3 separate regions of the Homo sapiens genome follow, and all the other regions are linked to region 1. The links come from fine-mapping of genetic effects on gene expression. A gene starts in region 1. Each other region holds a variant in brackets. All regions are shown on one strand. Distances are from middle to middle. Region 1 holds the start of ZNF518B (zinc finger protein 518B). Region 2 overlaps SLC2A9 (solute carrier family 2 member 9). Region 3 holds the start of LOC105374482 (a long non-coding RNA gene).

The links.
Region 2: its variant is fine-mapped to the expression of ZNF518B in whole blood (INTERVAL, PIP 0.98).
Region 3: its variant is fine-mapped to the expression of ZNF518B in Th1/17 cells (Schmiedel 2018, PIP 0.90).

What each region holds. Positions count from the first base shown.
Region 1 is chr4:10,451,747-10,462,671 of GRCh38, forward strand. It overlaps ZNF518B (zinc finger protein 518B), which reads right to left and starts at 5,680. Exons shown (of 3, transcript NM_053042.3): 1 at 5,571-5,680; 2 at 3,059-3,242. RefSeq lists enhancers at 4,746-4,805, 4,788-5,603, 4,866-5,025 and silencers at 5,156-5,795, 9,606-9,775.
Region 2 is chr4:9,988,914-9,999,838 of GRCh38, forward strand. SLC2A9 (solute carrier family 2 member 9) reads right to left here. Exons shown (of 12, transcript NM_020041.3): 3 at 7,868-8,028. SLC2A9-AS1 (SLC2A9 antisense RNA 1) reads left to right here. Exons shown (of 4, transcript NR_183862.1): 2 at 4,342-4,461; 3 at 10,180-10,284. Among named protein-coding and RNA genes, the nearest start is that of SLC2A9-AS1, 6.3 kb to the left of the region's middle. The variant C/CTT (reference allele first, on the strand shown) is at 5,651.
Region 3 is chr4:10,483,770-10,494,694 of GRCh38, forward strand. It overlaps CLNK (cytokine dependent hematopoietic cell linker), which reads right to left. Exons shown (of 19, transcript NM_052964.4): 19 at 2,626-6,844. The coding sequence ends at 6,698. It overlaps LOC105374482 (a long non-coding RNA gene), which reads left to right and starts at 5,344. Exons shown (of 3, transcript XR_925387.4): 1 at 5,344-5,426. The variant T/C (reference allele first, on the strand shown) is at 5,284.

The sequences.
Region 1 (10,925 bases):
GCTAACAGCCATTTATAATTACCATAGAAAAGATGCTCCACTTACAAGAGTACTCACTACAATTTAGGTTTATATATAAACTAGTTACGAAACTACCTTTTCCTCACCCACTTCTCTCAAAGTTCAGCCAAATTGTGAAATATCCCTGTAGCAAATGAATGTGTTTCTGTGATAAATGTTAATGTGAAAAGGAAAGGTGGGTGGCCAATTATATCGCATACATGCTACATGGACCACCACATACATTTCTGTTCAGGAGATGCCCAGCAAGCTCAGTGTTAGTTGACTGTGACTGCATCGTTTTTGGATGTAGAAGCAAACTTAAGCAGCTCTTTTCAGGAATGCTGACCCCAAAGTCCGCCTTTGAATGTGGCTCTACCATACTCATTGCTGGGGCAGGGTATAGCTGCTGTACCCATGAAGATCACATGAAATGGAGTGGCAGGGTTTACAGTTCCAACTCTGATCCTGTCCCTCATTTGCAGGGTCCTTCAGCAAATAATTTTTCTCTGTGCATTGCCAAGCAAGGAATAATGCTTTACCGTAAGCAAACTTAAAGGGCGATCAGGAGATGCAAACTAGATAATGTATGCAAAGCATTAAGCCCAATGGCATAACCACTTACAAATTATATCTATATTCCTTCTGTCTCTTTCACCATAGCAAAGGCTTGTCTAGCTTTCCCAGTAACCAAATTTTTAAAACAATTCTACCCCAAAGTGCCCAGTGAACAATTAAAATCAATCAGGAAAAAAAAATCAACATTAGACATCAACTGCCAAAATTTCCCCAGTAGGATGATATTGAGGAAGAAACTGTTGCCTCAGAAACAGCTTTCTAAGACCATTAATATGAATGTGTGATGGGGAAGGCAGGACATCTGGGCCATAACTGAATTATGTCAGCTGTTTGAAAGCATCTTCTTGGCTTCTAAACTATGCTCAAAATAATGCAATGTTATTACATTGCATTATACTACAAAATGCTGGGTAAACAGATTTAAAAGAGGAAAAAAATCCATTAAGTGTCATAATCTTTTTGCCAAACTACCTTGCACTGAGATGACTGAATTGCAAATTGACTGCCATCCTGATGACGAAAAATACTTCCAAATGCTGCCGACAAATGTACCCATGCTTGGGATCCTAGATTTCCATCTGAAACCAAGTGTACTGCTTGGGCAGCAGAATGGACCAAGACAGCTGCAGGAGACAGCCTGATTCCTCTGCTTTTCCAGGTGAAAGCAGCTGAGTGTAACACAGTAGAGAATAATGACCTTGGGACAAGAAGAACAAGGTTCAAAACCTAGGTGTTTGGTTTACTAGCACATGATTTCAAACTTGTTAACCTATCTGAGCCTGAATGTTCTCACTTATAAAATGTGAATATTTCTCATTTATACAGCTGATGTGAGGACAAATGAGAAAAGGGTGTATGCAAGTGGGAGGTAACTTTATGCTTGGCAAAGAGTAGATGTTTCGTTAAGAAATCAGTCAATATATTTTTTTAAGATGGCTTCACAGGTAGAAGAGTCCAGTAATGTCCAGAGAAGCAGACACTGGTTAGCTTAACAAATGAATCTGATGAGGCAAAGGTCTGTATCAACATGAGTTCATTAGTCGGCAGGAAGTGAGGGTCTTCTCCCCACCCTGTCTACAGGGAGTATTTTGGAGATTGACTTGACACTGCTGTGCACATCAACTGAGTCTACATCAGGAAACAAAGGAAGTGATATTATAGGCTTTTTCTTAACATTTTAAGAAAAAAATATTTGTAAAAAAGAATTTAGAGTGCTTGATGTCTAAAACTTTGTATGTGAAAAAAAAATGTGAAAGAGCAAATATGCTCTTGTTAAGCATTAAAAATACATATATGGTAAAAATAAGGTAGTATCACACGGCATATTACAAAATTTTATGTCATGAAGCACATCAAATGACTCCGGGTCTCTGAAGGTGCTAAAAATGAGACGTATATTTTCACATTTCTTTTTTGCCTTAAAAATTTGCAGAAAGAAATGGATTCAGAGTTTAATAAAACAGTATAATCAAGCACAGAAAAAATATCTCCCATTAAACCAGTAGTTCTTAACCTTGGTTGCATTAGGGCAATTGGCCTGTCATGTGCCCGGGATATTATTTTTTAAAGGAGGTCCCTGGGACAGCTGGTCACCCCACTGCACACCAGAATTACTTGGAAGCTTCAAAAATAATGATGTCCCCCACCACCCGCAAGACTCCACTGTAACTGGGGAAGAGGTGGGGATACTGGGATCTTTAAAAGCTTCCCAGGTGATTCTCATATGCAGCTATGCAGCCAAGGCTGCAAACCACCTGATACTACAGGTGCAGGTGCACTTGGGAATGGCAATAGTAATATCGACATCCTTGTACAAGATTTTATATTCTTGTGGGTGCCTGGAGGTGGGGTGAGGCCACCACCCCTGGGCTGTCATGGGGCAAACAGACAAGCAGACTCAGGGTTCCACCCTTGCCTAGCCCTGTGACCTTGGAAACACCAATGATGCTCTCTGTAAGATGTATAATGAGGTATCTACTTTGTAGATTCTTAGAAATTTGAATGTTCCTGGCACAGTGCCTGGCATAGTGTGAGTACAATGAGCACTGCCCAGGACTGTTTTATCCCCACACCTGCTGTGGGCTGCTGTTTTTAAGGAGTCTAACAGAAGATGGAGATAAGTAAATGGGTATGATAAGTAGAGTAGTGAATGTTCTATCAATGATCTGATCAGAGTGCTCTCCCAGAGGCTGGCTGCTTGTCAATCACGGAGCACCTTGGCCCAAGTCAGATGGAAAGAGTGCCTGCATGAGCAGGTTCCTATGTTACCTCGAAACTTCTCAAAGCCAGCCTTCAGTTATCTGCTTCTTCCCTGATTAACAGGTCTGGAGAAGCTATATGGCTTTTTGAAGATCACAGAGTTGGTGAACAGCTGCAACTGGGTCCAATCTTACATTCTTTGTTTTCTGCTACCCTGCTGTGTGAAGCTGTGAAATGAAGCCATAGTCAGTATCTGCTGCCACTTGAGCACTGTTCTTACTTCCTGCCTGTAGCCTTGGAGTTGCAGATGTAAGTCAAAACCGTGGCAAGTCCCATGGGCTCTTCCTTCTCTTTCAGGCCTTCTCTTCTCAGGCGTGGACTGCCATGAGTTTCACAACCTCAGGCCCTGGTGTAGGCTTCTACATCAGAACCCTGGGCGTCAGCAAGGCGCTGCACAAAGAGGCCTGCAACAGAAGCCAAACACTTGGGTTTAAGTCCTGGACCGGCACAGCCTTGGTTTCTCAGAGTGTTGAAGATAAGGGGAATGAGCCCCAGAAGTGGTTCTCAAGCAGGGGTGTATGGCAAAGTCACCCACGGAACTTAAAAAGGATTCCCAGGACTCACATGCAACCTAGCAGATCAGGTTACCATTTCCTAGGGTGGGGCTCAGGCATATGGTTTAAAATTCTCCCTAGTTGATTTTGATGCCTCCCCACCCTCACCCTATGATGACAATGTTTAGACTGGCTGATCTGTAGCTGCTTTCACTCCAAGGATGAATCCTGGAAATTGCAGTTAGCTGAGTTTGCATAACAAAGAAAATGCAGTAGACAGCAGGCAGTTTGAGAACAATCATGATTGGGGAAACCCTCCCTGGTAAGGATCTTGTTTATCATGATCAATAGCGAAGGGTTTGGCCAAGGAAGGCACTCAATAAGGTTCGTACTGGTTGAAAGAATGAGTGAATGAATGAATGAAAGAGCAGGCTTCACAGAGACAAAAATAAAATGTTCTTTGTTCTTCCTTTTGCACAAAAACTGGCCCCGATGCCCTTACTTAAAGGCAAATAAATCTCTAGAGATCTAAATGGATTTTTTTAATTGCCATTTTGCATTTTTAAGATCTTCAGATCGGGTATAATACATCAGAAAGGAGTCCCAATAAATAAAGGAATGCCATCCTTTGTCTGCTCTTTTCAAATTGCATTTGCAATGAATGTTATCAGCATAGCAAACTGTCTACGCAAAAAAGTGTTATTTTTGAAGGCTAAATTTGATCCAAGATGAAAGTAACTTTTAAAAATTGCATCCTAGTTAAAGATATCAATATCACACAATTTTAAAAAAGAACTATTTGTATTCTACTCAAAGAGACAACAGTATATAACATTGGTTTCTAAAACAATATTTTCTGAACCCTTGGCTGTGTACTGACATCATATGCTGGGCTGAACTTTGCATATGTGACTCAAGAGAGAGAAAAGAGATGTATTCCCATCCTCAGTCTCTGCTCTACTGTAGAAGAGTACTGCAAGCTTCTAGAGACCCAGGTTTGTCTTAATTCTTGGTGATTTCAAGTCTAAACTTAAGATGGTTTAAAGAGTCTAACACAACATTAGAGTTTAGCTACGTAGATTTGTACTTTTAAATAGGACATAATGCTCTGTAGTTTTTTTTTTTAATGTTACGTTGATAAATCGTTCATTATTACAATTTTTAAAGTCAGAGGTATTGTAACGGGATACATTAACTACCCAACTTATAAAGACTTAAGTGTTTTCTCCCGTTCGCTCTTTTGGCTTTTCCTTTCTGGTTAAGAAACTTTCATTCTTTTGAACCCTGCAATTTCTTGGCTTTACAGAGCCCCAAACCCCAAAGACACCAAGATAAGACGGGCAGGCCGGTATGGGGAGGTCCCACAATGACATCAGCATTTGGAACAATTCAAACCTTCACCATCTCTTCTCAACCTCCTATGTCCTCGCCCCCCGTAAAAGATGCGCAGGACCTCGATGGACGAGCCCACCCCTGACCCTCTCAAGGAAAGACAATGCCAGGCTGGTTTTCGAGTTTATTGTCGGCACGCTCCCCCGATGGCAGGCAGCATCCGAGGCGAGCGCGCCTGAGCCTGGGCGCTCGGAGGACGAGGCCAGGTGCATCGGGCGCATCGTCGTCTCCCAGGCGCGTCCCGCTCGCCGCGAGGGAAGGCCGGGGTTCTTCCAACCGAAGAAAACCAAAACCGTCAACGCTCAGCTCCGAGGCCCGCAGGAGGCTTTAAAAATGGCCTCCTGACGACACTTCCTGCTCGGCGCGGACGGTAGGAGCCCTCGGAGGAGGCATCCTTCATAACGCTGGGGGCGGGGAGCGCAGGCCGGGCCAGCGGCGCCACACGAACGGCCCCGCGGGACGCTGCCACCCCCGCCTCGGTCGCCCCGGCGCGTCGGCCGAGTCCGCGGGGTCGCGGCGCACAAAGGCGAGCTGGGGGCGCCGGGCCGGACCCCGACCCTAGGCCAGGCCCGCGTACCTGCTCAACGCGCGCCAAGCCGCGGCCCGGGCCCCCACCCCAGCCGGTGCCCCACGCCCACCAGCCGGAGCCCGCGTTCGGCCTACCCGGTGCCACTTGCCACGACGCCAGCCCTCAGCGCGGGCACGCGGGGCCGCGGCCGCTCGACCCGCCCCGGCCTGGCCCCGTCAGGCCCCCGCCCCGCGCGCCCCCACGACCCGGCCGCAGCTGGCGCTTCGGTCACGTACACGCGGATCCGGGGGCCCTCGCCCTCCCGCTCAGCTACTTACCCGGCAGGCCGGATTCGGGTGCCAGGTCCCGGCGAAGGGGCGTCTACACCGCCGGCCGCAGACCGCCGGCGCCGCGCCCGCTGTAGGTCCCTACCCGGGGGGCGGAGCCCGCGCCAGCCCCGCGCGTGCGCAATGTGAAGCGGCGGCGCGGCTCCAGCGAGGCCGGCGCCTGAGGTCTCTAAGGCTGCGCCCGCCCCCGCCGGGCTTCTAAGCTGTCCAGAGCGGGGAGCCTCAGACCCAGCCGAGCCCCACTTCTGGGCTTAGAGCTTGACCCAACACGTTCGCACCGTAGCGAGCGAGGTCCACATTTAGCCATGCCGCAGGCAAAAGAAGGATTCGGCTTCGGTCCTGGCCCAGTCTGCCATCCCGGGGCGCCTGCCTTGTACCGGGTCCCGCGGAGGGCGGCCTTGGCGCCTGCCTCCCTGGAGCCTGCAGTCCTGCAGTGGGTGAGTGAAAGCGAGAGAAGAGGAGCTCAGGTCCTCAGCCTCCAAACTCGTCTTCTTGGAGAGCTTCAGTGAAGGAGATGGCCTTGAAGTCCTGGGTACAAATCCTGACTCTCCCTACTCCTTTACATCTTAGCTGCTGGACCTTGGCGAGAAAGTCCCCTGACCTCTCTCAGTGTCTTCATTTCTGAAGACGGGGAAGGTCGTATGTGAGGCGCAAAGCCTCCTCTAGCAGTTGGGCGTTGCGAGGGTCAGAGGGGACAATGACTGTGGGAGTCTGGAGAGGGTGTGAGCTCATTTAATGCCAGAGTTTCTTTCCTGCCTCCTGGACTTCGGTGCTATTTTGGGCGAGCCAACTGCCCTCTAGATACACCTGCATCTACGGTCCGGAAGGAAGACATATTTAGAATAGAGCCTCTAAGAGGAAAGAAGAAGACCATATTGCCAGGTCCCGCACAATCAGTGACTCCCCACAAAGTGAAACAGCTCTCCAGCAGGGGCAGGTTGAGGCATGGGAGCAGCGTCACTGGGAAGTACAGTTTCTTCGGGATGAACAGCTAAAGTTTATTTCAAAGCTCTGGAGGCGGGGGCGGGGCAAGGCTGGTTTCCATCACCTTCCTGTTGGCGGCCAAAGGTCGGCGTGCACGGACAGCGGCCAGTATGCTGCACGGAGGAGATGTGGGCCTGGGCAGTACTGCCACACGGAGAAGCGGAGTTGAAGAAGACAGGCTCAGCCACAAGTCCAGCAGCTGGGCAAAACCTCCACCACTAAAGTATCAGGAGCTGGGCAGAGAAAATAGCAGCCCAGAGAGCAAATCCTTCTTCCTGCCCTAGGCTGCAGTGCTCCTAACCTCGGTCCTGATCAGGGAGCTGCTAGGGTCCTGGTTTTCTATCTCCTAGGGCTCAGAAAAGCTAAGGAACCTCTTCTCAGAAAAACACATTTATGTGCAGATAGCACCTATCAGAGAGAATATGCCAGAGAGTTCAAAGTCTCCCTCAAGAGTAGGGTCAAGTTGGGAAAGGCATTGAGAATCCAAACTAGGAGCCACTGCCTGAAAATCTCTAGTGGCAAACAGAGCCACATCAGGAAAAACTATTAATTCTAAGTATTGGAGAATCTGAGGTCTAGACATTAGAAAATTGTCCTAAACTTTATAAGGAGAGGCAACTCTCCTTATAACTTCTACTCATGCATCACAGTTCTGCCCTCTTAAGTCACACAGAATTGATGTAAGGTACCTGTGGGTCTCCTGGGAGTTTTTCTGAAGTGAGAACTGGTTATAAATCCCAGTTCGGCCACATAGAAGTTGTGAGCCTGTCTGAACCTCAGTTTCTCATGTAAAATTCAGTGAAAAATAGGTCCTTCCTCCCAAGGGGGTTGTCAACATTAAACAAGAGAAAGCAAGTCAGGACTTATCACAGTCCCTGGCAGATAGAAGTGACTGTTAACTTACTCTTCAGTAGCCCAAATTCAGGGAGATGAAATGCTTTGTGGAGTGTCTGGAAATGGAGTGTTTACAGCCTGAAAAAGGGTCAAGGAAAAATAGAAACTACTTCAGCAGAAACCTTTAAGGCTGATGTCCCTAAAAGTCTTTTGATGCTTGCAAATGTGAATCATCACACGTTCCCTACACGTCTGCCCTTCATGTCTTCTTCTCCACCCCCCAGCTTAGTTTGCCTAAATTCCGTGGATCACTTCTGTCACGAGTTGAATTATGTTTCCCAGAAAAATACGTTGAAGCGCTAATATCCCCCACCCCCAACTTATGGATATGACCTTATTTGGAAACACGGTCTTTACAGATGTAAGACAAGGTCATTAGGGTGGGCCCTTATCCAATGTGAATGGTGTCCTTACAAGGGACACCATTCTGTGTCTCTGTGAAGAGACGCAGAGAAGAAAATGCCATGAGAAGACATGGAGACACACAGGGAGAAGAAGCCATGGACAGAGGCCGAGATTGGAGTACACAGCCACAAACCAACGGCTGTTGGAAGATGGAAAAGGCAGGGAGGATCCTCCCCTAGAGGGTTCAGAGGGAGCATGGCCCTGTGGACCCCTTGATTTCAGACTTCTGAGCCGACAGAACTGTGAGACAATACATGTTTGTTTGGTACAGCCACCCTAAGAAATCAATGCACCCTCCTAGTTATGACTACCTAATGTAGGAGAGAAGAAGGAAGACATGAACCAGTCCTTGAGTATAAGATTTGGGAGCCAACGTTCATTCATTCACTCATGCATTCAACAAAACATGTATTGGGCTGGGCGCAGTAGCTCATGCCTGTAATCCTAGCACTTTGGGAGGCCGAGGCGGGCAGATCACCTGAGGTCAGGAGTTCAAGAACAGCCTGGCCAACATGGTGAAGCCCCGCCTCTACTAAAAATACAAAAATTAACTGGGCGTGGTGGCGGGCGCCTGTAATCCCAGCTACTCAGGAGGCTGAGGCACGAGAATTGCTTGAACCCAAGAGACGGAGGGTGTAGTGAGCCAAGAACGAGCCACTGCACTCCAGCATGGGCAACAGGGCAAGACTCTGTCTCAAAAAAAAAAAAAAAAAAACCAAAAAAAAAAAAACCGACCATGTATGAATGCCCATTCAGTGCAGGCACAGGCTGGTGCTGAGGCTAGAGGAATGACGAACAGGGTAAGGCTCAGCCCTCAGGGAACATTCATTTCTGGACCACGAGCCTTACAAATGCAATGACGGGGACTTGGGAGATGAGCTGTAAGCCACGAGTAGGAAGCTGCCACAAGAAGATGGAGAACAGGGGAGAGGAGAGCATGTACAAAGGCCCTGAGGTGGGCGCTTTTGAGGAAGAAAAGGAAAGGCAGTGTGGATTTAGATCATTCTAGGCGTCTACAGACTCTGATCTTAGAGAGCCCTTCATCAAATTCTGCCAGTGGGGAGCTTGGGGCTCAGAGGAAGGCCTCCACGAGCTTTCCATGATCATCCTTTCTCTTGCTCTGAACTTCCTTCCATGCTTCATTACCCACTTTTATATTCTCTCTGGCCTCTACCGCTCCCGAATATTATATGACTTGACAAAAACAGCACTGTCCATTGGAAAAGGGCCAGGTCTTTAACACCCAGGTCAGAGCACAGACATGTCAATCTCAGACACTTCAAAACTTTATGCATGGACAGGAGATCCCAGAAAGTGGCTTTTTTTTCTTCTAAAACATTTCAGAAGTTTTTAGTAACTTCCTTGAGCCACAGTTTGCACATCTGTAAAGGAGGGATAAAGGCCCCCCAAGCTCTGATAAGACAACCCCGGTTCTCAAGCTTACCTCGCCTCACAGTCCTGGGGTGCAGGAGGTTAAGGATGTAGAGCCCGAATCCCGAACTCATTTGCCATCCTTCCAGCTGTGTGGCCTTGGCCAAGTTACTGCCAGTCTCTGAGACGTTTTCTCAACTGCAAAACAGGAGTAACTGGAGCAACCTTTCGTGGAGGGTGCCAGGCGCTGGAGCGTGGCTAAGGCAGGGACCACGTCCCAGCCGCCCTTTCCCGCCCTGCGGCGCAGGCCCACTCTCTTGGCTCTCCTGGCCCGCACACTCAGCTCGGCCGCCGCGGCTGCCGCGGAAGCGCGCAGTGAGGCTAGTGGGGCCACGAGCGGCGCGCTGAGCATGCGCGCCCGATAGAGCCTCGAGATGCGCCGGGCCGCGCTGCGCTGCAGTACCGCCCGCGGCCTGCAGTGTCGCTGCGAGCCCGGCTGGCCCAGCTCGGCGTGTAGAGCTCTACCCCGCGCGGCGGGCGGTGCAGCCCCGCGCTCACCTGGGCGTCTTCGCTCCCGCTCGCCCCGCGCTTCCGAAAATCGGGAATGTAATGTTTTGTTTTTACATTCCAATTTGCTCCCTCCCCAGGCTGGCGTGGAATCCGAGGGTTCCTGATGACTGCAGCTCCTCGCCCCTCCCGCTGTGTTCCCGCCGCCTCTGGGCTGAAAGCGCCATCAGGACCCGTGGCGCGTGGGCTTTGTTAAGTCATTAACTGCTTGGGACATAGCAGGAGCATGGTGCGCGGCACAGAACAGGCTTGGCTTCCACGGCCCATCCAGGCGGAGCCGTCAGCGTCCCTTGCCTAGACCAGAGCTCTGGAAAGCGGAGAGGCGGACAGGGGCCGTTCCCCAGATCTGTTCCGGAGGATGCAGATCAGAACCAGAGAGGGTGCATTTAGAAACTCATTGCAACCTGACAAAGTTGCAGCGTTGTAGCGCGGGGTCAGCAACAGGAATTCGGGTTGGGTGGAGTCGGACTCAGGGAGTGGTCGCTTGTGCGCAGAACTGCGTAGACTCGAGTAGGTTCGAAAAGGATAGGCCTGGGGGCAAGACCTAGTCCTTCACCACAGGTAAATCTAGGCGTCCGCGAGGGTCTCCTGGCTCATTTTCCTGCATCCACTGGCCTCCCACCACACTGCGACATCCAGAGTGGTCGTTACACAAAGCAAACTGAATTAAGTCATTCCCCTGCTCCAGAGTCCTTGCAGCCTCCGGCCCTACAGGATGCGCCCCTGCCTGCCTGCCAGGTCGTCTTATACCCTCTCCGCATGGTCTTGCAAAACTGACTCCGCTATGCACCGCTGATGCACCAGGCTTCTCCCGGGAAAGACCTTTGCACGAATTATGCCTGCCTGGGGTATCTCTTTCCCCTCTCAACTCAAAAATCACCTTCTCAGAGGCCTTTCTAACCATTTCAGTACTCCTCATTCTGTCACATCCCTGTGTTTTATGTTCTTCATAATGAACTGAAACTGTTTGTTGTATGTTTTGTTGGGTCTTTTCATTTTCCCCTACTTGGAAGTAAGCTACTGTCTTGTTCACCCTTAGATTCCCAGCGCCTAAGGCGGAGGCCTGACACTTATAAGCACCCATTATAGTTGAGTTCCCATTTATTAATTCAAGCAAAAACTGTG
Region 2 (10,925 bases), 460 kb before region 1:
CACCAGGACGGATTGGGGGAAGACATAGGGAATTCTATTTCAGTTTGAATTTGGAAAGTACTTTTCATTAAACCCTAGTAGACCAGAGAACCTATGGAAATAATGTATCTCTCCACAGACCTTTCCAGTAAATCTTCAGCCTGACTGGGCCTATAAGCCAAGATCATGCCTTGTTTCCACATCCCTCACCCTCCTCGTGTTCATCCGTTCCTGCATACCCAGCTTGAATTCCTTGGCTCATCCCTTTAAATATTTATATGCCCATCCACCCCCTTTCATTACATATGCCTGGCAAAACCCCAGCTGGTTAAATCTCTGTCTACTGGGCATCTACAAAGCTCAGCTTGGCTGGAGAAAAACATATGGCTGTGTTGTCCTTTCTCACCTGAAATTCATGACCACCAACCTCAAGAAGGGTTAAGGCTCCCCTGCACTGAGTCTACAGATTCCTGGTCCATCCAACACCCTTCTCTCCTAGAGGACTATTTCATATGTTTTCTCTCTCTCTTCAAATCCCCTTTTTATCATTCTCAGCTGATGACCATGCTTTCTTTTTCACTGAGAACACAGAGGCAATCCCAAGAGACCCTTCCCACATGCCCTCTGCTTGTATTTCTGCACCTGCATCTGTGCCCAGACACCTGCCTTCCCTTGTTTTCCAACCCTGGTGCAAACCATGTCCTCTCTCACCTGCGCTATTGCAAGGTTCTCCCAACCAGGCTCTGAGACCCCCTGATAACAGCACACCTTTCCAAATGCAAGTCAGATCAGTTCTTAAAACGTTCCACTGACTTCCCATTTTGCTCAGAGGAAGAGTCTCAACCCTCGCCTGCAAAGTCCTCAGGATCTGACTCCAAATATCCCATCTAGCTTCCTATGATTATCTCTACACTGACCTCCACTCTCATCTTCAAAGAAGTGGAGCCTCTTCTTGCCCCTGGGCTTTTGCACCTGCTGCCTCCTCTGCTTGGAGAGCTATTTCCCAGGGATGAGCGTGCTCACTCCCTTGCTTCCTTCAGTGCTCCCTGCACAAGTCACCATTTTAGAGAATCCTCTGAACAAAGTGGTGAGCTCTTCACCCTCCCCAGCATCTTCTGACCTCCTTGAGCTGCTCTGTTTTCTACATTGGTCCTTGTCACAGGCCGAATGGCACAGTCTGCATGCTTGTTACTTGGCTGTGCTCCCCGCTTGGCTGCATGCTTCAGGAGGACAGGGACTTTGGCAGCTTTGCTCATGCCTGAGTGCTTGGCACATAGAAAGTACTCAACAGATATGTGGTGAGTAAATAATCGGATGAGGGAACGGAAAGTGTGCAAGCATACAAGGATGCTTAGATGCAAGCAAGGATGGCCACACTGGGGAGATGTGATAGAAAAATTCAAGCATCGAGCATTTTCCACCCATCCTTCCATTTATCCAACAAATGTCTACTGCTTGCCTGCTGTGTACAAGCTGCTGTGTTGGGTGCTAGGGGCCATAAATACATATGGTTCTTACGTTGAAGGGCTCCCTTATCAGGGAAGAGACGGGAACATAATGAAATGAGTACAACCCAAAATGCCAAGTGACGTAACACAGGGAACTGAAAGTCCTGTGTGAGCTCAGAGAAGGCCAATATTTAGTTCTGGTAGATATGTCCTAGGCAGTGGGGGATGGGGTTGAAGATTTCTTATGATTTCTAACCCTGCTTTCCCGGCTCATGCGTCTGTAATACCAAAGGGGTTGTGTCCATAATAAAACAAACCAGTGATGCAGGGACAGCTTGTACCATTGAAGCCTCTTGTTTTGGATGTGTTGACTCTTTGTTTTACACTTTGGAACCCTGCCGTCCCGAAGTCTTCTGGTCTTATCTACCATGCCCAGGCTTTCTCCTTATGTCCCATCATGAACCCAAGTTTCCTTCTTCCAGAGTTCTTGCCATTCTCACTATGCTTAGAAGACTAGTCAAGTCTTCTAAGGCTGGGAGAAGCAGGGTTGAGGATCAGGTTTCCTGGCTGGCTGGTTATCTCCCTATCCCCTCAGGGATTCCCCCAGCTCAATGAATGCTGGCTTCTAAAGGCTCAGGGTTGACTCTTCTCCAGAAGATTGACATTGGCTCTGAAGGTGGATCCCCCTTTCCCAGTGCTGCCTGCAGCGAGTGACAGATGAGTGGTAGGGGTGGATGCAGCCCCCTTACTTCAAGTTGGGTGACTCTGTGGTGTGATTATGCCCCAGAGCTCCCCCAAGTGAGGCTAAACTTGACCAGGGAGTGCAGCCTTGCCTGGCTCCTTCCCCTGCTGCTTTCTGCTTTCCCCACCTTAAAGATTACTCCTGAAGAGCCCTTCCTCCACAAGCCATGTGTGCATCCCAATCCCTGCCTCAGGCTCTGCTTCTGGGCAATTGACTTTCTGAGACAATTCCAGCCTGAAAGAAGAGGTTGTCAGCAGCACGGTGTGTTGCTCAGTCATGGACTAAACTATGTTCCTGCCCCCTGGTTGAGAACCCTTGAACGCATGTAACCTCGCTCGGGCCAAGGAGATTCATGCCTGGGACTTTAACTACAATGATTGGAAGGAGAATTTCCATCAAGCTGGGGCCATCTTGCACCTCCACAGAAGAAACTGCCTGACAATGAAGCCAACAAAAAACAAGCTGAGCTGAGAGGTGGAGAAAGAGAGAGATTTGGATTTTTTTAAGGCTCACCTGTTAAAGCCCTAACCCCTAATGTGACTGCATTTGGGGACAGGGCCTTTAAAGAGATAATTAAACTAAAATGAGGTCACAAGGAAGCGGCCCTAATGTGGGATGATTGGTGTCCTTGTAAGAAGAGGAAGGGACACCAGGGATGCACACACACAGGGAGCACACAGCGAGAAAGCAGCCATCTGCAAGCCATGGAGAGAAGCCTCGGGAGGAAAAGACCTGCCGACACTTTGATCTTGGCCTTCCAGCCTCCAGAACTGTGAGAAAATGAATGTCTGTTTGCTGAAGCCACTCCATCTGTGGTATTCTGATATGGCAGCCTGGGCTAACCAATGCATGCTTGCCACATACACTGAAGGCTCCTCCAGCAGGCACCTAGAGAGACACAGTTATTTTCTACTACTATAAAATACAGATGCCTTTTAAAGGGTTGAAGTAGAAAATGATGAAAGCAAAAATAGTCCTTTTGACAACCTGCTATTTCCCTGGAGTGATGTATGGGATGCCTGTTGTTTGTGCTCACCGAACCTCCATCCTTCTTCTGGGAGGAGTTCCTCAAATTTCCACCAAGAAACCTTCCTGCCTGTCTCCACCTAACCATGGCTTCAGGAGTGGATGCGTGGTACAGGCCTGGCCAGTCAACATAAAATCACTCATCATTCTCAAGGCATTTAAGATGTGCTTTTTTAAAAGCACTTAATCCAGAGTGTTAGAATGTTATTTGCCAGGATTTTCTAACCTTGGCACTATTCACATTTGGAACTGGAAAATTCTTTGCTGTGGGGGTTGTCCCGTGCATTGTAGGATATTTAGAGGCATCCCTGGCTTCTCCTAGATGCTAGTAGCACCCTTGAGTTATGAAAACCAGAAACATCTCCTGGCATTGTCAAATGTCCCCTGATGAGGCAACATTGCCCTCTGGTTGAGAACCCTTGAACGCATGCAACCTCGCTCAAGTCAAAGAGATTCATGCCTGGGACTTTAATCACAACTATCGGAAGGAGAATTTCCACCAAGCTGGGCCCATCTTATACCTCCATGGGAGAGATTGCCTGACAATGGAGCCAACACAAAGCAAGGTGAGCTGAGAGGTGGAGACAGATTTGGATTTTTTAAAAGCTATCATCTGAGCCACTGGATTCAACCAAGTTATATTTTAGTTATTGTGAGCCAAGTAATTCCCTTTTGGGCTTCAGCCAGTTTGCTTTGGGTTCCTGTCACAGGCATTCAAAAAGCCTCCTTAGTGACATGAGACACTGTAAATTTGATCTCGTTCCACCCTCATAGCTGCTCCCTCAGGTGGGTTTGTTTATCTGCACTTTACAGATTTAAAAATTAAAGGGCATAGCAGCTGCCTCTTGTATCTCTACCATCCATGCACAGCACTGCTCAGAATCATAAAGACTTACATAATGAATTACTCAGGGGCTGCCTCCTTTGCCCAAGCATCACCTTAAGCCCCAGATGTTGTGTCTTTCTTGTTCACTGAAGCCCCAGTGCCAAAAACAGTACCTTACTCCTTGTAGGTGCTCAAAAATGTTTGTTTGGATAGATGAATATGGTTACGTGGCTTGTCCAAGAGTCTGGCCCAGGATCAGATTTCAAAGCCCATGTGTGTTTTCCTATAGTTTCTTATATGTTTTTTCTGCTTTGCTCCAGACGGAAGAACCAGATCCAATGATATGTGTAAGAAGAATAATTTCAGTGCAATTGAAAGAACAGATGCACAATTGACTCTGTCAAGTGATGGAATGACCCGTCTCAAATAAAGCCAATGAGGTTGGTGATGGTGAAGATGATGATGATGTTGATGATGATGACACTAGTGAACAAAGGCTGGGCGAAGAGTCTGGGTCAATTGTAGGGATGAACACTTCACATCCACCATTTCATTTAATCTTCACAACAACCCTCTGACATGGCCATTCTTTATCTTCATGTCATCGTGAACTAAGTAAAGATGAAAGAGTTTAAGAAACACATAGCTGTGTGTATCGGAGCCCAGACTTGAAGCTGGGCCCGTAGCTAGTGTTTGTACACCAAACATAGTCACTGTCCTGTCTCATGAGGGAAGGAGGGTCCTGTCACTATGGTCATGCAAGCAGAGGACAGAGGATGCTAAATGGGTCACTGAGCTTCAACCAGAATTCTTGATCGCTGAGAATTCCCTCAGCCAGAGACTCCAAGAGGTGAGGAACCTGCATCTGTGTGAGGCCCAGGTCATGTGGTATGGCCCATCTCCAGAGACTCTTCCTGGCCCCCTTTGCTTCCCTGCCCTCCTTTGTCACCGAAATCACAAACGAGCTCAACATTCCCTAGCTAGGAACAGCCCCACTGCTGGAGCAGCCAGTGACCAGCCCCATCGGAACTCTTCCCCACTTCCCTGGAATGTCTCCCCCAGCTATACCTTTGAGCACCTTCCACTGGGCCTCCCAGGCTGCCATTGCAGTTTCCTCTCCCTCCCTGAGAATCCCCATGGGAGAGGAATAACAGAGCATCAGGAAGGCGTTTCAAATAGCATCATGTCACAGGAAGAGTGTTGGCCTGTGGTCAAACACATGCAGATCTGAACTTCAGTTCAACTCCATTTTGAAACCTTGGTCCAATTGACCACTGGGTCTTGGACTCATCATTTGAAAAGTGCAGGTAATGATGCAAACATGGAGTTTTAAGAAGTAAATGATATATGGGATGTCAAGGACAAGGCAGGAGGTCAATAGATGGTAGCTTTCTTTTTCAATTTTTGCTCCTTTTCTCCCCAGCAGAGTTGCTCTTCAAGCTGAAACTTCAGCCCAAATCAACTTTTACTCTCATAATGATGAAAAGGAAACTGGCAGCTGCTTGGGGCATAACAACCAACACATCCTTTGATCTGATCTTTTTCTGCATCCTCACTTCTTTATGACTCCTCCATTACTTAGAGATTGAAGGTATTTTCAAAGTTGTTTTCTCTTTTGCTTTCCTTTTC[C/CTT]TTTTTTTTTTTTTTTTTTGTTGCCATGCCAGTGAGGGTAGTAAAGCTACTTTCATTGCCCTCATTTTATAGGTAAGAATAATGCTGGCTGAGAAGTGAGGTGTCAAAGTCCCTTGTAACACACCTGATACACAGCAGAGTCAGGACTTGCTGAGCCACGGCATTCTGACCCGATTCTAGTGTTCCTTTTCCTATTCCATCTGCATGGGTTCAGAGCCTCCTTGAGGAGCAGCCTTGGGGTATAAATGCCACGGTCAGGTATAAAGCAAGGAGACATCACAGGCCAGATCCTGGGGCATGGGGAGTGACTCCATCCCACTAGGACAAGCAAGAGGACCATGGGCAGGGTCTGGCTTGGGCAGGAGGCTTAGTGACCATGCCTCAGGGACCCTGGCCAGTGATGCCAATCTGAGTGCCAGCCTGTTGTCAAACAGTCATGGTTTTACAGTACATTCCCAGCATTGGGAATTGGCCCCTAACTAAGATCTGCTTGGCATAGTGGAAAGATCATGATTCCAGCCTAAGCTCAGCCACAGTGCAAGCTAGCTAAGCTTGTGCAGATGCCCTCACCTCTCTAACCTCCCATTCCCCATCTACAGACCCCACAGCAGATAGAAAATTAAACAAGAGAATGTGTGAGTGGCTGGAACCTTGAAGGACCTCAGACAATGGCATCTCTCACTACATCATGCAGTAGTTGTATTTCCAGGCCCTGAATTCCCATTAATTACTGCTCTGAAAGTGGGCTTGGGGACAAGGAAAATGTCAGCACCTCCCCTACCTCACAGGTATCACAGACCCTCATAAGCACCACTTGGATGTTTTCAGGGTGGCTTCCTGTCCCATCTTTTAGAAATCTTGCTTTGAAACATCGTCAACTCTAGTTTTCTCCTTGTTGGGCTGTGAGGAAGAATGTAAAGGATTCGGTCATTTCAGATTGTGAAATGGGCTCCTTCTTAATCGGGTTTCTGTAATCCCATGGTCTGAGGAGATTTTCTGGAGTCTGATAAATCTCCTCTTCAACTCACGTCAATGCAATAAGGAGGTTAGTCGAGTACTTACTAGGTAGTGATGTCAAGGTGATGATGAGGGAAATGCCAAATAATGTGGTCAATGACAAGAATTTTTATTTATTCAGCTACAACTCATGGCCATTCTCCTTCCATTCATTTGGTCTAACTCTTGTAACATTCCCTGCAGGTAGAAACTATCATCCCTATTTTACAGATAAGAAAATTGAGGCTCAAATAAATTAAATGATTTGGCCAAGGGCACACAGCTAGTAAGTGGAAGACACATGATTCAAGTTAAGACACGAATGTTCTGGCCCCATCAGATTGATGTGACGACTCCTCCATCACTTGGAGAAGCTCTACTCTTTCCACACACTGCTCACTGGCTCCCAGGATGCTGTTGTTATGAACAAGAATACAGAGAAAGCATTGTTTGTGGGGATTCATTGATAAGTCAATCTGCTCTGAGAGAAGGATTCCTGTCTAAAATAAGTGAGGAATGAGGCTCACAAGGTCAAGTGAGCTGATTGGAGAGGGCCTGGGTAGGAAAGGCTGATATGAAGTTTTTGATTCTCACTGCTTCCTTATTTGTAATGTAAATGATCTGAAATGACCTAAATGTCTCTCAGTCAGGGAGTGTGGCTAAATAAATGATGAGACAGCCATATAGTGGAAGACTGTCTAAGCAGTCAATTTTCTGGAAAAGCAGATCTGTATGTACTTACGTGGAACAATTTCCAAGGCACTGCACTGTGTTTTCCATTTGCCCCAACACCCAGATCAATTCCCCTCCCCTCCCTGCTCTGCTCTATGCCCCGGGAGCATCTCCTGGATGGCAACATGACTTCCTGGTTTACTGGCTTTCACATGGGTGTGACCAGTGTGCACCTCTGCAGCAGGATGGAGGGTGGGAGGAGGGAGGGGTCAGGGCATTTCTTCCCTGCTCCTCCCCCATGTGGGTGCTGTGGCTCTGACACAGCCCAGTCCCTATACGCTTCTGCTGCTGCTCATCAGCCTGCAGTCCATGGCTTCAGTTATCTTTGGACCTTGGTCTCTGATTTCTTCCCCTTTCCCCTTTGGGCATTTGAATCTCTCCAGTTGAACTGCCTGAGTGGAGTTCTGTTGCCTGTCAGGACCCTGACAATGACACAGATATATTATGAACATGGAGGGCACCCCCAGATAGAGACAGCCTCCTACTGACCTCCCAAGAACCTTTCCAATCATCTTCACAATTAACGTCCCCACAAGTCCACCGATGGCGAATATGGACACAGTCACAGACCAGAGCAAAGTCAGAGTGTCTGGGTCTATTGGACGTCCATGCCTTCTTTCCCATGACTCATTGTAAAAGGCCTTGATGTACTGAAAATAAACAACAAACCATGTTATTTCCTTCTGTTCTCTCCTGCTGCTTGAAGCAAGCCAGTGTACAAAACAAAACAGCTTGTACAGAGCATTTTCATGCATAGCACTTTGCTAATTTGTTTGAGCTTTATCTCATTGGCCTCTTCTAACAAATTTTGGGAAGAGCAGAAGATGTTAATCTTTATTATATTCAAATGAGCATTTTTTTTCTTTTATGGCTAGTTTTTTTGTGTTTCTTGCATCTTTGCCTATCCCAAGGTACTTTTTTTGTAACAAAATGTTTCCTCTTTTTACCTCATTTTGGAGATAGGGAAACTGAGGCTCAGGGAGACAAAGTGACTTGCTAGGTAAGTGCTAAACCTGGGAGCTGGACTCAGATCTGACCCCAAGCTTATGATGAGCTTCATAGCTGGGCTTCTCCAATTCTAGTGCACCGCAGCATTGCTGTGGAGGTGTGTTAAAGGGCACATACCGGGTGGGCGCAGAGGCCCACACCTGTAATCCCAGCACTCTGGGAGGCTGAGATGGGTGGGTCACTTGAGGCCAGGAGTTCGAGATCAGTCTGGCCAAGATGGTGAAACCCTGTCTCTACTAAAAATACAAAAATTTGCCAGGTGTGGTGGCATGCACCTGTAATCCCAGCTACTCAGGAGGCTGAGGCATGAGAATCTCTTGGACCCAGGAGACGGAGGTTGCAGTGAGCCAAGATTGCGCCATTGCACTCCAGCCTGGGTGACAGAGTGACACCCTGTCTCAAAAGAAAAGTGGGGGGGCACATACCTAACAAAAAAAAAATAGGCAAAAATGCAACACACACAAAAAAACTAGCCATAAAAGAAAAAAAAATGCTCATTTGAATATAATCAAGATTAACATCTTCTGCTCTTCCAAAGACGTCATTCAGAAATGAAAAGACAACCCATAGACTGAGATAACATATTTGCAACACATAGAACTACAAATAAATCCTATCTACGATATACAAAGAACTCTAACATGTCAAAAAGGAGGCAAATGATACAATTAAAAATGAGCAAAAATTTGAACAGACTCCAGAGAAAATACAAATGACTGGTATGCTAATGACAGAATGCCTGACATCATTAGTCAACAGAGAAATGAGACCACAAGGAAATACAACTTCACATTCACTAGAGTCTCATCGCTGCCAATTCTGATTCAGTGTGTTTGGGACAGGGACTAGGTGATTCTGATGTACACCAAAGACTGAGGTCCATGGCACTAAGCTCCAAACAGAGTTCAGTCCCCAAGGTACTTAGAGTTCCCTGTTGCTACCCAACGTGAGCCCGCAAACCTCAGCTGAGCCAGTATATGACACTGCAGAAAAAGCTTAGGTTCAGGTCGCTCAGACCTGGGCTCAAATCCCAGCACAACTTGGTAATGATTTAAATCAGCTGAACCTTGGTTTTCTTATCTGCAAAATGGGAATGATGACATTGACCTCTCAGGGCTGTTGTGAGGGTCAAATGAGAGCTTGAAGCAGTGGCCAGTACTTGAATGGAGCTTACACAATCCCACATAGACTAAAAATTAAAAGATCTGGTAAGACTGAGGAGTGACAAGCAGTGTGTTGTCTGCTGGTAGGAGTTTGACTTGTACAGCCATCTTGGAAAACAGCTTTGGCATCAGCTAGTCAAATGGAAGATGCCTGTAGCCTACAACTCAGCAAATCTACTTCTAGAAAACTCCCCTGAAAAACTGTTTCTGGGGAGCCCTAGGATATATGTACTCAGATGTCCATGGCAGCATTGCACATAATAACTCCAGACGAGAAACAGCCCAGGTGCCCATGGTCGATAGCAGGAATAAACAAATTGCAGAATCATCATCATATGAAACATCACAGCCACAAACATGAATGAATACAGCTCTGTCCAAACACACATGGGAAAACCTGGCAAAAATAACACCAACCAAAAGCAGCCAAAAACAAAACATACACAGTCTGATTCCATGTGTAAAACCCAAAAGTATGCCAAATTAAAATTTTTTGGAGAATTATATATAGACGGTAAAACTACAAAGAAAGAATTATTTCAAATGTCAGGTCAGGGGTCATCTCGGGGGATGACAGAAGAAATAACTGGGGAGGGACACTTGGTAGGTCCTTCTTTTTTTTTTTTTCAGGCTGGAGTGCAGTGGCATGATCACAGCTCACTGCAGATTTGATCCCCTGGGGTCAGGAGGTCCTGGTACTTCAGCCTCCCGAGTAGCTGAGACAGACGACTACAGGTATGTGCCACTATGCCTGGATAAATTTTTTTTGTTTGTTTCTTGTACAAAGGAGGTCTCGCCATGTTCCCCAAGGCTGGTCTCAAACTCCTGGGCTCATGCGATCCTCCCGCTGCAGCCTCCCCAGACCTTTTATTCTTAACCTGGATTGTGACATGAGTGTTAGATTTATACTCAGTCTTTAAAGTGTGTGTGTGTGTGTACGGGCACACAAGCATAATGCATATGTGTGTATTTTATATACTCTTTTGTATGCATAATACATGCTGCCATTTAACATGGAAAAGAAAAATGGTAGGAAAGTGTTCCAGGCAGAGGGAGAATTATGCCAAGACAGCAGGACAGAAGAAAGCTTGGGTGGCCATGGAATTGCAAGGAGGCCAATAGGGGAGGAACAGGACCAGAAAGGGAAGGAGTGGGCTGGATGAAGTTGGAGGGGCAAGAAAGGGCAGGTCATGTGGGCCTGATAGGTCATGGAAGTTAGCCTGGTTTTTACTTGGATTCTACTCTAGATGAAGTGGGAAAGTATTGGAGGGTTTTTGGCAGGGGGAGGACATGGTGTGGCTTGCATTTTCAGAGGATCCCTCTGGCAAGTGGATGAAAGAGGAGCTAGACAGGAAGCCAGGCACACTTGGGGGGCA
Region 3 (10,925 bases), 32 kb after region 1:
GTATTTTTAGTAGAGACGGGGTTTCACCAAGTTGGCCAGGCTGGTCTTGATCTCCTGAACTCATGTTCCGCCCGCCTTGGCCTCCCAAAGTGCCGGGATTACAATCGTGAGCCACTGCTCCCGGCCTATTAATTTTCTTAATTGTACTTAATTGTTATTAATTTTCTTAACTTACAGGAGTGCATAAGTTAAGACATTCCAGCTTTGTGAGTGTGTATGAATTACTTGTTTACAGCCTTTGCTCATACATATTAGGTTGTTTAATTGCCTTTTGACTTTGTCTAACTTTTGTAAACATTTTAAATTTTGGTGTAATGAATCTATCAATCCTTCCCTTGATGATTTAAGTTTTTGTCTTAAGAACTCTTTCCCTATCTCAAAGTCTTAAAAATTATTAGACAAAGATGTAAGACTCAATTTAATAGTTGCTTTTTGCTCTTAAGTATTTGATTCATGTAAAATATATTTTATATGATTTGAGGTAGAGACATAATTGTATTTTTTCTATATGGTGAGCCAGTTTAACCAGAACCACTTAATAAATTATCTGTCCTTTCTCTACAGATGCTGCTTCTATTGTATTCACTTACCCTTCAAACAGGTAGTCACTGCTTCATTCCCCATGGCCTAGAATAGTGCCCCTAAAACAGGAGTACCCAATAATGGGCAACATGCCTGTACTCCTGAAGTAGAGTGTTCAATCTTTTGGCTTACCTGGGCCACACTGGAAGAATCATCTTAGGCCACACGTAAAATACACTAATACTAATGATAGCTGATGAGCTTTAAAAAAAAATGGCAGGGCACGGTGGCTCATGCCTGTAATCCCAGCACTTTGGGAGGCCAAGGCGGGTGGATCACGAGGTCAAGAGATTGAGACCATCCTGGCCAACATGGTGAAACCCTGTCTCTACTAAAAATACAAAAAAAATTAGCTGGGCACGGTGGTGGGCACCTGTAGTCCCAGCTACTTGGGAGCCTGAGGCAGGAGAATGGCGTGAACCCGGGATGCGGAGCTTGCAGTGAGCCGAGATCGCGCCACTGTACTCTAGCCTGGGTGACAGAGCGAGACTCAGTCTCACAAAAAATAAATAAAAATAAAAATAAAACAGCTTCATTGAGGTATAATTGGTATATTAAAAAACTGGACATATTTAATGTATCTAATTTAATGAGTTTCGAGATACACATACATCCATAACACCATCATCACACTCAAGGCAATAAACATATCTATCACCTCCAAACATTTCCTGCTGCCCCATCTCCCTTTTTGTGGTAAGAACACTTAACATGATTAACATGAAATCTACATTCTTAAAAAAATTTTAAGTAGGTAATACATTTTCGTTGACCATAGGCACAATGCTATACAGCAGCTCTCTAGTACTTATTCACCTAGTATAACTGAAACTTTATACCCATTGAACAACAACTCTCCATTTCCCTCTCCCCACAGCTCCTGGCAACAACTATTCTATTCTCTGTCCCTGTGAGTTTATTTCAGATTTCTCATATAAGTGGAGTCATGCAGTATTTGTCATTCTGTGCCTGGCTATGTCACTTAGCATGATGTCCTCCAGATTCATCCACCTTGTCACATATGCCAAGATTTCCTTCTTTATTGAGGCTGAATAATACTCCGTTGTATGTATATAACATATTTTGTTCATTCATTGATTCATTCATTTTTTTTTTCTTTTTTGAGACAGTGTCTTGCTCTGTCTCCCAGGCTGGGGTACAGTGGCATGATCTCAGTTCACTGCAACCTCCACCTCCCGAGCTCAAGTGATTCTCCTGTGTCGTCCTCCCGAGCAGCTGGGATCACAAGCACCCACCACCATGCCCAGCTGATTTTTTTTTTGTATTTTTAGTAGAGACGGGGTTTCACCATGTTGGCCAGGCTGGTTTCGAACTCCTGACCTCAAGTGATCTGCCCACCTTGGCCTCCCAAAGTGCTAGGATTACAGACCTGAGCCACCATCCCTGGCCCATTTATTCATTTTTGATGGACATTTAGGTTGTTTCCATATCTTGGAATAATTGTGAATAATGCTGCAATGAATATGGGTGTGCAGATATCTTTTCAAGATCCTGATTTCATTTATTTTGGATACATATACAGAAGTGGGATTGCTGAATATAATAGTTCCATTTTTAATTTTTTAAGGAAACCCAGTACTGTTTTCCATAGTGGCTGCACCATTTGGCATTCCCACCAACAATGTACAGGGTTTCCATTGGTCCACATTCTTGCCAACATTTGTTATCTTTTGTTTTTTGATAATGGCCAACAGGCATATGAAAAGGTGCTCAATTTCACTAATCATTGGGAAAAAGCAAATCAAAACCACAATGAGATATTAACTTACACATATTAAGATGGTTATTACATGTGTATCTTTCCGGCCAGGCTCTGAGCTCACAATCACAGGGATTGTGTCTTTTTTGTCTTTATCTCCAAAGTCTAGCATAATGCTCATATGTCAATAATTGTTCTGGTAATTTTATCCTAAATTTGCCCTAAATATAATTTCAAAAGAGCTTTAGGGGTAATAGGGCATGAAACAAAATTAAACTATGTTTTGAATTTCTTTCTTCAATACTCAGAGACAGAGAAAATTATAACATTCAATTACATATTTACTTTTATTTACATTAGTAAGGCTGTAAATTATGAATGTAAATGTGCTTAGCTAGAACAAATATTGCTCAGAATAAAAAAGATATACAAATATAATGCTAATATACAATATAGGCTATCATAAAAATTTGTATTTGTGTACACACATACATAATTGGCTACATTCGACAATGGGGTTCATTTGATTCCTCCGTAGTAATTAGAACAGGAGACTTAACTGATTACAGCCATGATGCGGTTACTTAAAAACACACACACACACACGCACACAGGCACAGGCACACACATGCACACCCCACATAAATAAGTTTGGGAAAATTTTAAATTTTCTCACTTAGGACTTTTCAAAGCCATCTCAAAGGAGCTTCCTCAAAACATTTAATGTTGGCATCACCCCACAAGTACTCAGAAATAAGTGTTAAAATAGAAATCCAATCCAGTAATGGGAAACTGACTTAGATTATCTTATTTGTTTGTATATTTATTTGTCATCTATCTCTCTTATTCACTGCTCTATTTTCAACATCTACAATAGTGCTTAGTAATGAATACACATGCAGTACACAAAGGTGCTAACACAATATATGACTAATGATGAGGGCTATGCACATTTATACAGAATGAGAATTATTTAGTCCAAAAAATATCTGGAAAGCATAAATGCTGTAATTGGATAAAGCTAAAATTCTATTACTCTATTGAAATCAGATATCAAGTGATACTTTTAAACTAAACGTGAGGTAATGGTTGAAAAGGGATTAAAACACTGGAATTTGGGCATGCCAAATCCAAATCATTGAATATTCAATTACAGATCTAATAAAGCAGGTAGACCATGAATAGGATAATTGCATATGGAGACCTTGGTTCCAGTCGCGACTATGTCACTGTGAGATTTTGGCCAATGAGGTACAATTTCCTCAATTATAAAATGCATTAGAAATAGCTGCCCTCTCTTCTTTACAGAAGTGTTGTAAGAAACAAATACAATCGAATTTATATACTCTTATTATTTAATCATCCATTACAAGCAAAATGTAAATGTGATTGTCCTTACTACAATCAACACTGAAAACAGTGAATTCAGGATGTTGCTGTGGCAGGCCAGAGGTGGGTCTCTTGAGTCTCCATTGAAATAACTTGCTGGCCAGCAAGTTAGTGGACAGCGTCCAGCTGCGCCTTCTGGATTGGCCACAGCATTTGCAGGTCTTTTTTTTTTGTTGTTTTTCTTTTTCCCAGGATAGCCCCAGACAATGACTTAACAGGATGGGGCACTAAGACCCAGACATTACTGCCCAGCATAACACTGTCTCCTCTCTGGGCAAACTTTGCTTTGGGCCTCACTATGAGCTGGCCAAAACTCTCCCAGAGCTGTGTCTGAATCTCATGCTTTTTCTCCTCACTCCCCACACCTCCCCTCTTCCCTCTCACAGGTGGGAGCCTGAAAGCCCACCCCATACCCATACTTCTGTTTCTTCTCCCTTTTATCTTTCTCAAACATTAACCTCCAATCAGTGTTTGCACTTCTAACTTTGTCCTGGTGTCTGAGTTCTAGAAAACCCGACACCCAATCCCTCAAACCCCAATCACCAGAAGCAGCCCATGTCAGTATTTTCCATTTTATATTTTTTACAGAAGTGTTCAAATACACAAAAATATTGTAAGCTTTTTATTGCAAGATGTTTAATTTCTTTTTTTTCTTCCTTTTCCCCTCATTCTTGCTGTCATCTTAAGGATGCTGAATTTCTACTTCTTTTTTCTTCTTGGAATTATATGTTGTATTTGTGAACAAGAGACGATAAAATATTATTTCAAACGTACACCTTATCAAATGCTAACCCCCACTTGACATTCACCTATTTTATCAACAGCAATGGTTGAGAGGACTCATAGACATTTCTTGAGAACATAGCATTGAATGGCATGGCCTCAATGAATCAGTGAGTTGGAGGTATCAGTAATCTCCCAATAGCTTTTTAGGGTGAGGGTCAGATTCCTTCTTAATGTGAGCCTGGAGCTCTTCTGTAAAGTCCTTGTTTCCATACTGTCCCTGGCTTGTTGAATTCCAGTAGAGAATGACCAGCAACCATACAGCTTTTAGCTTTGACCGGACCAGTGAGTTCTTTCGTATCCAAGCTCCAATTTAAACACTCTTGTCTCTTGGTTCTATGTAATCCTCTGCAGGCATACTCTACGATAGGCTCAGCTGGGTCTCAAAAGTTCCAGCTTTACAAATAGCTTCTTCATTAAATGCTCCTGATGTAACTTATAGGCATCACTTCACATTGACCTTGTGAAAGGAGAACACCTGAGCAGGTATTTGGATAGTGGGTAGATGCTAAGAGCTTTTCCCAGAGAGCTCATTGTCTGCTGTCTTACAAAAGAGATAATCCTGCACATTGTTTTTATTGTTTTCATTTGCTTCTATTGCCTTTTAATTATTTTTGGTTTTCTTTCTGCATCAATGCTACAATTACATAAATACTCTATGAATTTCCTTTGTAAGCTTTGGTAGCATTTGACATCATGATATACTGTTATTTTCGACAGACAGTATGTTTTTTAAAAAAGCTTATTCCCACTAGAAGAGTTTATTTATTTTAAGGTGGTAAATCTGTATTTTCAAATTGTTTCTATCT[T/C]TCTCTCTCTCTCTCTCTTTTTTTTTAAATTAGCTTTTCAACTTGATTGTAAAATGTCACAGCGCAGAGAATGTACCTGGGAAGATGAGCTTGCATGGAGCCAGGCAAAGCAGATTACAATCTGGGCTCTCTTCTCATATTGAGTAAGATCAATAGCTACTTCGAGCCTCTGTTTCCTCATCTTTATTGTAAAACAATAATAAAATTAAATCCTCTTAACCTCTACAGGGAATAATATCATGGCCTGTGCAACGTTACTGCAAGAATTAGCACTAATTTGAGGACAGTTTTTCTCTGTCTTTGAATGGAAGTCCATAATTGGAATTGTTAATACAATTTTTAGTTTCCCTCAGACATATGCTTGCCTGAAGGCTAGTGTAGGATATAATCTGAGCTCTGTACTATGAATGTGTTAATTCCATTTGACTTAAAGCTACTTGAAGCAGATGATGCTGGAGGCTGGTCCCATGACCGTTTCACACCCTAGTCAGAGGATTTTCAGTTTCTGTCTTCAAGGTGACATTCACAATTGCTGGTTTTCCATACCACATTTCTTCCCTATACTTGAATTTCTAGGATTACAATAAAAGAGAGCTAATATTCACCAACCCAACACCTTTTTTTTTTTTTGAGACGGAGTCTCTCTGTCCCCAGGCTGGATTGGAGTGCAGTGGCGCGATTTCGGCTCACTGCAAGCTCCGCCTCCCGGGTTCACACCATTCTCCTGCCTCAGCCTCCCGAGTAGCTGGGACTACAGGCACCCACCACCACGCCCAGCTGATTTTTTGTATTTTTAGTAGACATGGGGTTTCACCATGTTAGCCAGGATGGTCTTGATCTCCTGACCTCGTGATCTGTCCACCTCAGCCTCCCAAAGTGCTGGGATTACAGGCATGAGGCACCGCACCCAGCCCAGCATCTTTAGTGTAAGAAATCATCCACACATTGTATATATGTAAGGCCCAACAACTGACATAAAGGCAGCGCAGTGTCCTGTAAAGAGCACAGATTTGGGAATTTCCCATAGACTTGTCTTGCACTGACTGCAAACATTTAAGCAACAGCTTCTGGTGCCCTTTGCTGCTCGCCTGTATCATGAGCATAATGGCTATGTTTATAGTATTTTTTGTTGTTGTTTTTTAGAAGATACTTTTAAAACCCTAGTTTTTATTTTTATTTATTTTCCAGTGGCCAGTTACTAGAATGTTTTTATTTTTTGCATGTTATAAATATTTTCTCTGTGGTTTGAACTTTCAAAACCGTGAGTGATTTTCCACTCTCTGTTATAGAGTGTTTTTCTTTTCTCCAAAGTTAAAAAAGTTGTCCCTTGAAGGCACAGAAAATAAACTTTTGAAATCAATGAAAACAATGGAAGCGCTGAATCCAGTAAACCAAAGATAACACAAAGACCAGGCTACAGAGGCAAGAGGTGTCTGGTGAGAGGGAGTGGCTGAGTGAGGTGACACTGTTTCCTGTGGACCCCAGTTTTATCTTTCCCATCAATTAGTATAATGGGAAAATTCTTGTAGTGTTCGATGATGTCTTCTACTGAATCAAACTTCTGAAACACAGAAAAGAAAGTTAATGACTTTTAAAATATCTTTTGTGTCTGTAGGTTAAAGTATAGCCAAGGTGCTTCATTTTGCATGGGGAAGAGGTGAACCAATTTAACAATGTTTGTATGGTAAAGGTGTTTCAGGAAGTGGTTTTTGGTTTGTTTGTTTTTTTCTGAGACGTTGTTTTGCTCTGTCACCCAGGCTGGAATGCAGTGCCACAATCTCGGCTCACTGCAACCTCCGCCTCCCGTGTTCAAGTGATTCTCCTGTCTCAGCCTCCCAAGTAGCTGGGATTACAAGCATGCGCCACCACGCCCAGCTAATTTTTGTATTTTTAGTAGAGACAGGGTTTCGCCATGTTGGCCAGACTGGTCTCGAACTCCTGACCTCAGGTGATCCACCCGCCTCGGCATCCCAAAGTGCTGGGATTACAGGCATGAGCCACCACGCCTGACCGGAAGTAGTTTTTAAAAAGAATATGGCAAGCTTGAAGGATGAGTGATAAGAATGATAACAAGAGAGAAAAAAATTCTTGAGAGAACCAAAAGTGAGCCCTATGGCAGCTCTTTAAACTTCCTATACAGGGAGTTTCCCCTCTCTGGAATCAGATCACACTGGTCAAGTTCCATTCTATTGTTATCACAACCTTTCTATCCTAAGGACTCAGATGGGTTAATTACACAGCAATCAAGCCTTGGAATCTCTGTTGCCTCCCAAACCTCAACCTTAGCTCTGACCAGCAAAAATATAGAAGATGTAGGCTCGAATGTAGTAAATTGGTGGGCAATGCCTGCAGTGAGCTTGCCCTCCAGTAACGAAGTCTAAGGAATTCTAGTATACATAGAAAGAACAGGGACAACCACGGGGCTGCTTAGCTAATTTAGCTGCCCTCCTTAAGCTTCTTGTGAAATAATGAGGTAGCTGCAGATTTCAGTGTTTCTAGATACACAGATAAAATGTTATGACAATTTAACGGAAAGTAAGATTATTTCAGGTTTAGGGAAATGGGGAAGTGCTTTGTCAAGGACACAGACTTGAAATGGGCTATGTTATGGGTCATTCCAGATAAGTAGACAGGAGGGTTTAAAGACATTAAAAGCAGAGAATGTACAGGACCATGCATAAGGACAGGTATTGAGAAGACTTGAGCATATATAGTAATTTTTTTTTTTAATTTCAACAGCTTTAGAGGTATAAGTGGCTTTTGGTTACATGGATGAATTGTATAATGGTGAAGTTTGGGCTTTAGTGTACCCATCACCCAGATAATATACATTGTATGTACCCAGTAGGTGATTTTTCATCCCTTAGCCCCCTTCTCACCCTCTCCCTCTCTGAGCCTTCAATGTCCATTCTGCATACACAGTAATTCTGATCAGGTGAGTTTGGATAAGTTCCTGAAGGAGTATATTGGGAGATAATTAGGAAGAGCTTGCTCAACCTGCCTCCCATGTTTCAAGACAACTTAGATCCTCCTTAGCAAGCCTGTGAGGTGAACAGGGCAGGGGGAATGATCTTCCCTAAAGAGCGAAGGGAATTTCAGCTCAGAGAAGTGGACCGCCTTACTCAGAGTCTCCCATGGCTAGGGAGGATGAGACCAGGAATGAAGGCTCACTTTTCTGGATACTTCTTTTTATTTTTCAGCTTTGCCTATAGCTTGTGACCTCTGATGCTCCAACAAACCAGGGTAGAGATGACATAGCCTGAAGAAAGGGAGCCGTGTGGGGGCTACTCTGCCTCTGATTTGGTTTTGTCCACTCCTTCCTCTGTCCGGGGCATCCTAGGTGCAGCAATGTTGCAAGGCCTCAGGAATAGCCAATGGAGAATGAGATTGGCCAGTTAGGACCTCACAGGGATGACGTTCTGTTGGGAGCAGGCAGAAAATAATTTCCTATGCAAACAAATAATTTCATTTAGAGCTATGTGCTGTGAAAATTGTCCGTTGAGGCTTAAGAACTTCACCAGGTCGCTCAGAGGCTTCCCTCGGGGCTGTTGGGAGGGAACGTTCTTTTCTGTTAGAGGCGCACTGAATAGAAAGCAATTAAAACGCTATAAACCTGTGACTTCCAGGGTCATCTCCTCCTTCCCACCGTCATGTGGGATGGGGGGAGGGGGTGTGTGAAGAGCAAACAGACACCACGCTGGGGATAAAAACGTGGGGAAAGAAATGTAGAGTGGGAATGTCTTGATGTTAACTAGTCCCTGGATCGAGTCCATTTCTGTCCTTTCTGGTTACATTACAACACATTTCCTTCTCTCCCGCCTGAGCTCATTTGAATTGGGGTTTGTCTTTTCACACCCAAAGAGTCCTGGTTCAATCTGTAAGTCCCTTGTCCTTCTGAAACCTTTACTGGATCTGCAGCAGTTTCCAATGAGATAACCTATGTGTCAGTCTGACTTAGTGTGTTCAGCCTGTTAAAATACTAGGCCAGGCGTGGTGGCTCACGCCTGTAATCCCAGCACTTTGGGATGCCAAGGTGGGCAGAACACTTAAGGTCAGGAGTTCGAGGCCAGCCTGGCCAACATAGTGAAATCCCCTCTCTACCAAAAATATAAAAAATTAGCCGGGCATGGTGGCATGTGCCTGTAATCCCAGCTACTTGGGAGGCTGAGGCAGGAGAATCGCTTGAACCTGGGAGGCGGAGGTTGCAGTGAGCTGTGATGGCGGCACTGCACTCCAGCCTGGGAGACAGAAGAGACTTCATCTCAAAAAACAAACAACAACAAAAAGTACTATAAACCTGGCAGCTTAGAAACAGCAGAAATGTATGTCTCACTTTCTGGAGTCTGGGGAGTCCAAGATCGAGGCACTGGCAGATTCAGGGTCTGGAGAGGCCCATTTTCTTGCCTTAATGCTGTGTCCTCACATGGTCCAAAGAGCAATGCACTCTTTTACAAGGGAACGAATCTCATCTGTGAGGGCTCCACCTTCAAGACCAAATCACTTTCCAAAGTCCTCACCTCCTAACACCATCACCTTAGGGCTTAGGATTTCAACACATACATTTTGGAGGAATACAAACATTCAGACTACACCACCACCCATATTACGTATACAATAAATATGAGTTTCTACCTGATGCTAAGGTAAGGTACTTTCCCCATTGTCCAATGGGGAGATTAATCTCTACTACAGCAGGGTAATTGTAACCAGAGGGCCTGTGGAGCCTAAATGCCTGAGTTCAAAGCCTGGCTCTCCCAACCACTAGCAGTGTGACTGTCAGCAAGTTTCTTGCATTCTCTGTGCCTCAGTTATTCTATGAACAGTGATGGTAACGATAGGACCTAACTTTGAGATTCATTGTGAGAATGGAATTGATGCATATGCAGTACAGCATTCAGAAGAAAGTGTGACACACAGTGAGTGCTCAGCACATGCCAGGCCTTATGATTAACTCCTCCCTTCTAGCTTTGCCAAGAACATCATGAGAGAGCAATGCAATCACCAAGAAGTTTGTAGACCATTACTGTAAGCCTTTAGGAAGAGAAGAATTTTCTGTATTTCATTTCCAATTTTAAACCAAGCACAAAGTTTTCTTTCTCTGTCTTCATGCTTGCTAAAACAAAAAGTGAATAACAACCACACACAAAAAAACTTTTTATGCAGAACTCTTTCACAAAATTGGTTAAATCCACATCACAAAAAAGGAAATCTTTCCTAGTTTCAGTCTTCAGAGGGAAGATGATTTCTTTGTCCTAGTATCATTCCTGTTTTAAGATTGTCCCAAAATAATACATTTGCTATTAATTGTTTTAATAATCTGCTACATGGATGACATTTCATATGAAATTGTAACTTTAACAGGTAGTAGGCAGCAAGACAGGTGCAACTAGTCACACAGTATTTCCTATTTTTTTTTTTTTTTTGAGATGGAGTCTCACTCTGTCACCCAGGCTGGATTGCAGTGGCACAATCTTGGCTCACTGCAACCTCTGCCTCCTAGATTCAAGCAATTCTCCTGCCTCAGCCTCCCAAGTAGCTGGGATTACAGGCATGTGCCATGGCGCGCAGCTAACTTTTCGTGTTTTTAGTAGAGACAGGGTTTCATCATATTGACCAGGTTGGTCTTGAACTCTTGACCTCAA